Linked DNA regions of Homo sapiens: region 1 is linked to region 2. The links come from fine-mapping of genetic effects on gene expression. Tissue or cell type: cerebellum. Region 2 holds a variant in brackets; the other region holds the start of a gene. All regions are shown on one strand. Distances are between the middles of the regions.

The links. PIP is the estimated chance that this variant, and not a neighbour inherited with it, causes the effect. A credible set is the group of variants that fine-mapping cannot tell apart.
Region 1: CSMD2 starts here. The variant in region 2 is the best candidate, but not a certain one, in a credible set for the expression of CSMD2 in cerebellum (GTEx, PIP 0.51).

What each region holds. Positions count from the first base shown.
Region 1 is chr1:34,162,657-34,166,893 of GRCh38, forward strand. CSMD2 (CUB and Sushi multiple domains 2) reads right to left here and starts at 2,574. Exons shown (of 71, transcript NM_001281956.2): 1 at 2,255-2,574. The coding sequence starts at 2,441. RefSeq lists enhancers at 475-604, 1,025-1,084.
Region 2 is chr1:34,350,460-34,354,696 of GRCh38, forward strand. No RefSeq gene overlaps it. Among named protein-coding and RNA genes, the nearest start is that of C1orf94, 180 kb to the left of the region's middle. The variant T/C (reference allele first, on the strand shown) is at 2,546.

The DNA of each region.
Region 1 (4,237 bases), 190 kb before region 2:
GAGACCAGCCTGGCCAACATGGTGAAACCCCATCTCTCCTAAAAATACAAAAATTAACCGGGCGTGGTGACGGTCGCCTGTAATCCCAGCTACTCGGAAGACTGAGGCAGGAGAATCGCTTGAACCCAGGAGGCGGAGGTTGCAGTGAGCTGAGACCGCGCCATTGCACTCCAGCCTGGGCGAGAAGAGCAAAACTCCGTCTTAAAAAAAATTTAAAAAGAAAGAGAAGAAAAGAAAAGAAATGTACTGGAAGCTTGCAAGCCAGAGCAGGGCCTGCCGGAGAGGAACTACCCCAAGCCATGAACACAAGGCCCCCTCCCCGCAACTTCTCTACTGAGCAAGGAGCTGCGAGCAAATGGATCTCTATAGGGCAGGATTCCAGCACCGCTGAGCGGTGCAAGCGCCGGTGAGTCGGCCTTTTTCTCTCCCCTAGGGGCAGGATATGCCCAAGGGGCAGGGACAAATCTAGCCAGAAAAACAATTCAGTCCGATGCCGAGACATTCTCCAATCAGCTAAGCCAGAGACCGGCCTCGCCTCAACGTACGTCCGGGAGGCCTGGCGGGAGGTAGCAGCGATTCCCCCACCGCCCATGTGGCAAGTCTGGGTGACCAGCAGCGTCGGTATGCACAGCCTCCCAGTGGGTGTGGGTGTGCGAGAGGCCAGAGCTCCCAGGCGCGCGCACCGCGGGCGCCCCTCTCTGGGTGTCGGTGGCTATGACTCTTAGCAGAACCTAAGAAAGTCCCGTCAGCTAGGAATGAGAGAGCCAGAGCTGGCTCGGGGCGCCCTCCCTGACCAAGAACCCCAACATGCCGCGGTTAAGCGGTGGGCGACACGGTCTGCGAGGACAGACTCACAAGACGCTGAAGGCCAGAGTGGGCCAGAGAGCTCGCCACTCACTGACCTGCCAGAGGAGAGGCGCACTTTCCCAAGAAGGGGAACTGGGGTGGTCCAGGCCAAGCCTTCAGAGGTTCAATCGGTGGTTTCAAAACAAAACAAAACAAAACAAAAACAAAAACAAAAAAGAAAACACGGCTCCAGGTCGAAGGTGCCCTAGGTCTAGGCCTGGCCAGCAGGTGTTTCGGTTTCTCCCCCAGTGGGTGTCAGCCTCGCGGGCTAAATGAAAATGCGGTTCCAGGCATCCCGGTTTGGACCCGTCTCCACCCGGGCACACGGAACTTTCTAGCTTGTAGCTAGAACTGAGCTTCGGAGGGGTGCTGTGGGTAAAGCGGGAGGGCACCAGTCGCGGCCAGTAGCCTCCACAGGGGACCGGGTTCCCTCGAAGGTTCGCGTACCTCCCCCGCGCGCTGCAAGCTGCAGCCAGACACCCGCGAAGTTCCGGGACTCTCCGCACCCGCTAGATCTGCCCCTTCCCGGACTCGGTCGTCGGGAGCTGGTCCCGCCGCCCGCGCCGCCGCTGCCGCTGCCGCAGCCGAGGCGCTCGGCTGCAGCAGGGCGCGGGAAAGGGCACTTTGGCGCGGAGTGAGCACCGAGGGGAATGTGGCAGCGCGAAGCCTGGCGGCGGCACTCCCTCCCCCGCCTCGGGCTACAACCCCCACCCCCTCCTTCCCATCCCTCAACACCCTCCAGCCCCCACCTGCACCCTCCTGCAAGGAATGCGCGGGACCCCCACCGTGGGCACGCGTCCACCTGAACCCCCTCCTAGCTCCGAGCGCCGAGGGAGGGGTAGCATTTGAGGAGGGGGATGGCGGCCGCAGTCTGCAGTCGGTTCCAGAGGGGGCACCGGTTTCAATTGGAGAAAATGGGCGGGGGCAGGGAAGGGCAGACCTTGCAGACGCAGAAATGGGGAGGGGGCGCACGGTTCCTCTCCAGCCCCCAGGACCAGCGTGCCTGGCAGAATCAGGAGCCGGGGGAGTAGGGCTCCCGGAAAGTTTATCGGGAAAAAGCCTAGCACCGTGGGGGCTGGGAGGCTGGAGAAACTGAAGCCACAGACCAGGTGCCCCGCAACCCCGGGCGGGGATGTCTGTCTCCCAGGCCCCCACACCGGCCGCATCCGTCCAAGTTGCGGCTGGGGTTGGGGCAGCAGTGAGGGTGAGGGTGGAGGTGAGGACGTGGCTGAGGGTGGGGTGGGAGACGGAGGCAGGGATGAGAATGAGAGTAGGCAACTGGGAGGGTGGGAGATTCAGGCAGGGATAGAGGCGGGGGGAGGGACTGGGACCGGGTCGAGGATGGGTGGGCTCGGGGCTCGGGTGGGGCGCGCGGCGGCCGCTGGCTCCTCGGCGCGGCTGGACTCACCCGCGGCGGCCGAGACGCTGAGCAACCCACAGCCCAGCAACAGCAGCAGAGGCGGCGGCGTTGGCGGCGGCGGGCGGCCCCAGCGGCTCCCGGCGCCCGGCACAAGCGCCGAAATCCCGGTTTCGCCGCGAGCCCTCCCCGCGGGGCAGCCGCAGCGCCCCAGCTCCCGTCCCCGCGAGCGCGGCATGGCGCGGCCGGCAGCGCCGAGGGAGAGGCTCCGCTCGCCGCCGAGGAGAAAGGAGGTCAGGAGAGCTCTGGAGCTTTTTTCTGCTCGGAAAAAATCCCGGTACGCGGGAGCCCTGAGCTTCTGCGGCTGGAATGAACCAAGTGTCCGCCCGGCCGGGGAGAGGCGCGCTGCGCTCTCGGAAATGACTCGCTCCAATCCCGCTTCGCGGGGTTCGCGCCGGGGGGCGGGAGGGGGTGAATTATCCCCGGATTAATCACTCCGGAGCCGCTTCTCCGCCGCTCCAAATGCTGGGGGTGGAGGCGCAGCTAAGGATAAAATATTGGGGGGCGGGGGTTCCTCTTCAGCGCCACCTCCACCTCCAGATAAACCACAAATTACATCTAAAGGGTTGTTTATCCGTGTCTGTTTTGCAATTGACCAGTTTCTTTTAAGTTCAGTCCTCCTGTTTTCATTTATAACATCACCCATTAATACACCCCCCTCTCCACACACACACACACAAACACACACACACACACACAGTGACAGAGACACACGCACTCACACACACAGGCACATACACGCACACCTCTTCCACGTTTGGAAATTGGAATCCTGTCTGGGAAAAGGTAACCAAAGAAGGACGCGTTCCCCAAGTCTTGGCTCTTACCAGCTGATCTTGGGTGGTGGCTTTGAACTTGCCATCTAGGGCCGGGGGCGATGCTTATGAGCCTCATTCACAATAGCCTCCTACCCCATCCCAGGAGAGGGGCGTGTGTGCGTAGACAGAGGCAGGGTTAAGAATTGGAGGGCGGTGGAGGGGGGTTGTGTGTGGGGTGGGGAGGGGGGGGAACCGGTTCATTTGACCCAGTGCGGTCCCACTCCTACCCTAAGACAAAAATCTCAGGGTGGCAGAGGCGGTCCCTGTGTGCACGCGAGTTGGGGGTGGGGAGTGAGGTTGGTGGAAGGACGGTGCAAGAGTTACTAGTACAATTTATCCCCAAATTTAAATAATCGGATCCTACTTCTTCTTCTCCCCTTCCTCCTCCCAGCCAAGGCCCCAAACCAAGAGAGTTCTTCCCAAGGACGTGAGCTGCTCCCCACCTCTCCCCAGTAGCGGCTGCCTCTAGGCCCCAAGGGCTTAGTGTCGGTCCCCACCCCATCCCCCACCCGACTCGGTCGCCGTCTCTGTCTCGTCTACTCCAGGCTTCTCCGCCAGTCACGATGGCTCCTTCGCTGTCTACGCCAAACTCTCGGCGAGAGGGAAGAGACGCTTCATGGGGGGAGGCTGGAGGAAACTGGGAGGGGCAAGGTCCAGAGAGGAGGCTTCTGCTGGCGCGTGCAGTGGAAAGGCACCTGCGATGGGCACCCCCGCCCCCTTTGCCGACACACCCCAGAGAAGCTGTGCTCCGGGCTTAGGGCAGCCTGATTTGGCCAAAACGGAGCGTTGGCATCTGTGTGGCCAAGGGGGCAGTGGCCGGCGGGCGGTGGGGCCTGAGAATTTCCGGGGAAGGGTGTGGAGAGGGACTGTAGGGATGGCGAGCCAGGCTGGGGGTGGCTGGCGACCCAGGTTGGCCGGCTGTCAGCGTGGCCAGGAATTTCCATCCAAGGAAGGGTGTGAAGAGGGGCTGTGGAGTTGACGATATGAATTGGGGGGCGGGGGCAGGGCTGGAGGAGTGGAGGCTTGTCCCTACTCCCCATGAAAAACTTCCTCCCCAGAGCCACGCTTTCGCAGCCTCCTAGATGCCACTCTTCCTCCCTCCCCCCACCCCAAGTTGTTCCGGTTTCCCTGCATGAGCTCATCCCACAGCTGGGGA
Region 2 (4,237 bases):
AGAGAAAAAGAAACGGGAGGACAGGGAGGTGTGATTCTTGAGTACAGCATGGTTTCTGACACTTGTGTTTTTCTCCCAGCCTAGTCCCCACTGGTGTCATGCCACTGTCCAGTGGTAAGTGTAGGGGGTAGGTGAGAGCGGGGGCATTGATGGAACCATTTCAGCAACTGCATAATACATCATGGCACAAACAGAACTGCATCAGGGCCTCACTAACAGATATGGCATAGAGTAGAGGGGGAAGAGACAGACTTCTTCCTCAAATTTTCTGCCATGCAGAATGGCAGAGTGGAGGCTCCAGTGCAGTGGCAGAGAATGCAGTGTCTGGTGGTTCCACTGTAGGAACATGGTTGCTGGTGAACAGCAACAGTAGAGACCATGGAACCTGGCAAAGCCGGGGGAAAAAGCAGGGAAAAAGCAAGGAAAAGCAACTATGAGCCAAGATGACAGGACCCCTGGGAACCCACAGAAATATTTGTAAGAGGCTAGAGATTATGCCCCAGCATTTGGGGACAACAAATCTGTGAAATCTGAGTAGTTATGAGTAATGTGGTCCCATTTGTACCTACAGGTAGGCAAAGCCTGTGGTGGTCCCTGTTACACTACTTCGCAAGGTTATTGCACAGACATGTGGTGATATGTTTAAAGAGCTTGGTCCATTGTAGGTCTTTAAAATAAGAGTTATAATAAGAATACTATTACTGTTGCTACTGAGGTAATTATCATGGCACAGATTTAGGCAGGTATGTTGATGGCCACCAGTTCTGGCTGGTTGAGCAAAAAGCATGCTGAGAGGAAGAGAGAGAAACCCAAATCCTAGTTTTCTAAGTTTGCATCAATTTCACACATTTCCAGCCCAATGCTCTGGAAGGAGGAGGGTGGTCTGGCCTGCTGACAGCTGCCCATAGCTGTAGCATGACAGGCCAGGGACTGGCAGGAAGGCAGCAAAGGAAATAGAGGGAGCTGAGGGATAAGCCACATGGACACAGAGCCCTGGCTAGGCCACATGAAGTCCTTGAGGGCTTCTGTGACAAGCTCATGCTGTGTTTTCTGTTGGAATGGGGTTGTGGAAGTAACATGTATCAATACTGATTGTGTGCCAGGTGGTAGGACCTCGTACTGAAGAGGACATGGTCTGCTAGGGGCATCTGTTCCTTGTGCCACTCAGCATCCTCACTCCTCTTCTGGTTGCTTCTCTCTGGACAACCATCCCCTTAACTAGCCTAAACTTAAATCAATCACTGTGGCCTTCTACTGGCTATGGTGGTTGAATCAGGGAGGAGCATAAAGTCTGATCAGAACCTGCAGGTACAATGAATCTTTCTTGGGGAATCTGAGATGTTTCCTTGGCTAGGCTAGAAGCAAAGAGGGTGTGACTGCTGGAACTGCTACAACGCTCTTCCTACCACAGGGGAAATTCCTGTCTGAGAAAGGAGCCAACCTTGAAGACAAAAGTACAGAGATAGAAAAAGAAACCAGGACATGCATGGTGAAATTCCTTGAGCCTCTGTACCAAACTGCACCTGAGGCAAGTCCTATTTCCTGGAACTTAAGAGTTACAAGAGCCATAGATTTCCTTCCACTTCATCCAGTTTGGATTGGGCTTTCTTTAACCTGCAATTGAAAGAAAATTGACTGAAACCAAATCACTACCTTCAGAGGGCTTTACTCTCTAGGTGGGGAGAGAAACAAGAAAAGAGGTAGTTTGCTAGACTTTCATAGCTTCTCCATGAGACAAACATGGGCTGTGGGAGCCACCAGGGCTATGTATGAGTGGAGTGTCCCTCAGTCCTTAAGAAGAGGGTGGGCTGACATGTCGGAGTTGGGTGGTTGGTGTAATAGCAGAGAATACCTTTGTTCTCACGAGTCAACATTCTCAGTTACTTCCAGCCATTTACTACTTCCAGTCTCTAATGCCTTCTAGTACCTCTATCCCCTGCTTTTAGATAACTTACCTAATATCCACCCATCTATCTCTCTATCCATCCATCCACCCAAGCATAACTACAGTGTTGCCATCTCTTCCAGCAGGAAAGCTAAATCAGCATGGTCTATGTTTAAGGTCCTAGGAGTTCCATGCAGTTATGCCTTGGGTGCAAGGTCAATTCAAGACATCATCATGTAGGGCAGCCAACTCTCTCTACCTTGAAGCTGACAGAAAGTTTTTGGAGGGGAAATTTAGCAAGATCCAGAGGGAGGGACAGACAGGAGGGAGAAAACCAAGGTGGAAGGTCGTCTTCGTAGGACCACAGCCTCTGCTCTGAGTCAGGTGTTCTTGATGACAAGAACATCCTGCTGACTCTTCTGGGAGCAAGGAGTGGGGCTCTTCTTTTCTCGTGCAGTAAGTTTTGCATGAGAGATGTGAGGTTAAAAGGCAGACTTACTAATTATGCTGCTCATTCATACCTTCATTCAGCTCATTGCCAGTCCTGTGCTAGTCGCAGAGATGCCCGGGACTCATCCCTGCCCTCAAACAACAGATGGTCTCATACTAACAATTGCTTCATGCTGGGAGTCTTCTGTGGTACTCAGGTGAGTTCCTCTC[T/C]GGCTATCAGTCCTCAGCGCCAAACATGAGATGAATCCAAGTCTGGCTTCTCTCAGAGTTGAGGGTCCAGTCCTGATGCAAATAATACTAATAATTTCATTATTTTTGCTAATTCTGCCAAATCCCATTATTTTGGCACTTTACTTTCTAAATACAAAGTAATTCTTGGTTAATTTAGAAAATTTGGACTGCACACAGGAAAATACAAAGGAAATAAAAGTCAGTAACCCACTGCCAAGTGAAAAATCAAGTTAACATTTGGAAAATACATGTTTCTAGGTATATACACACACACACATTCATAGTGTTGTCTATATTGTTTTATGGCCTGCTTTTTTTCACTCAGCCATACATTATATTCTCTTATGTCAGTAAATATTCTTCTACAACTTTGTTTTAATTATTCCATAGTATCCCTTATTATGGATATTTCATAATTTATTTAGCCAACTGCCTGTGGTTGGATATGCAGGTTATTTTTAGTTTTCATTAACATAAATAATGCTTTATTGAATATACTTATACATACATAATTGCACATATATTCCCCTTGATCATTAAGACAAATTCCTAAAAGTAAAATTGCTGAGTCAAGGCTATGGATGCACATTTTTAAGGCTTTTGACAGATATTGCCAAATTGCCCTCTAAAAAGATTACACCGATTTAAGCTCCCTCCAGCAGTGTACAAGAATGCCCAATTCCCTATACTTGTTGTTGATTTAATTTGCATATCTTTGTTTCCAGTGAGATTAAATTTTTTCTTATATGTGTATTGTCTATCTGTAATTTTTCTTTCGTGAATTGCCTATTGATGTCAATTGCCTATTTTTTATGGGGGTGCTTATCTTTTCCTTTTTGACTTCTGAGAACTCTTCTTGTACATCAACCTTTTGTCTATAATATATGTTTATTATATTTTCCCCAGTGTCTCATTTGCCTTTTAATTTTGCTTTTGATGTTTTTTAACCCAGTGAGGAATTTGTTTTTAACTAATCAAATTCATTAATCTTTTCCTTAGTTTTTGCTTAGAAATGCTTGAATGCTTAGTAATGTGTAGAAAGGCCTAACCACCCCAAGTTGATATAAACGTTCTCCTAGAATGTTCTGCTCATTCTTTTACGGTTTAAATTCTTTTGTATTTAACCCTTTAACCACCTGAAATTATTATGTTGCTTGTTATGCAGTAAAGCTGTAATGGCTATAACTTTAATTATTTTCCCAAAGAGTTAAGAAACTTTCCCAATGCTGTATCACCCTTTCTCCCCTGTTTTGAAGCAAATCTATGGGTGTAAACAATACCTGCTAGCTCTAGAGATAACAGTGATTTATTTGAATGGAGTTGTAAACTGAAGATGTGGTGGGGGCATCTTTGCCTCAGTTGGGTCCCTGGAGTCTATGGCTATTTATCCAACAATATTTACGAAGTGCCTACAATGTGCACTCTGGGAGGTGCTGGGAAAAGAGGGGAGTAAGAGAACATTTCTGCTCAGTCTTTCTGGTGTCTGTACCAGATATGTAGGAGATGCTGTGGTGTATCATGCAGAGCCCTCTACAGGACACAGCCAAGGCACTTATTTACCGAGTGGTCAAGAATGTTACCTGCTGACAGCTTACAGTTCCCTCCCTAGAATTTCCCTCCTTCCCCCAAAGGGTACTGCCTGGCCCAAGTTATGTACACTCCCTGGGGACA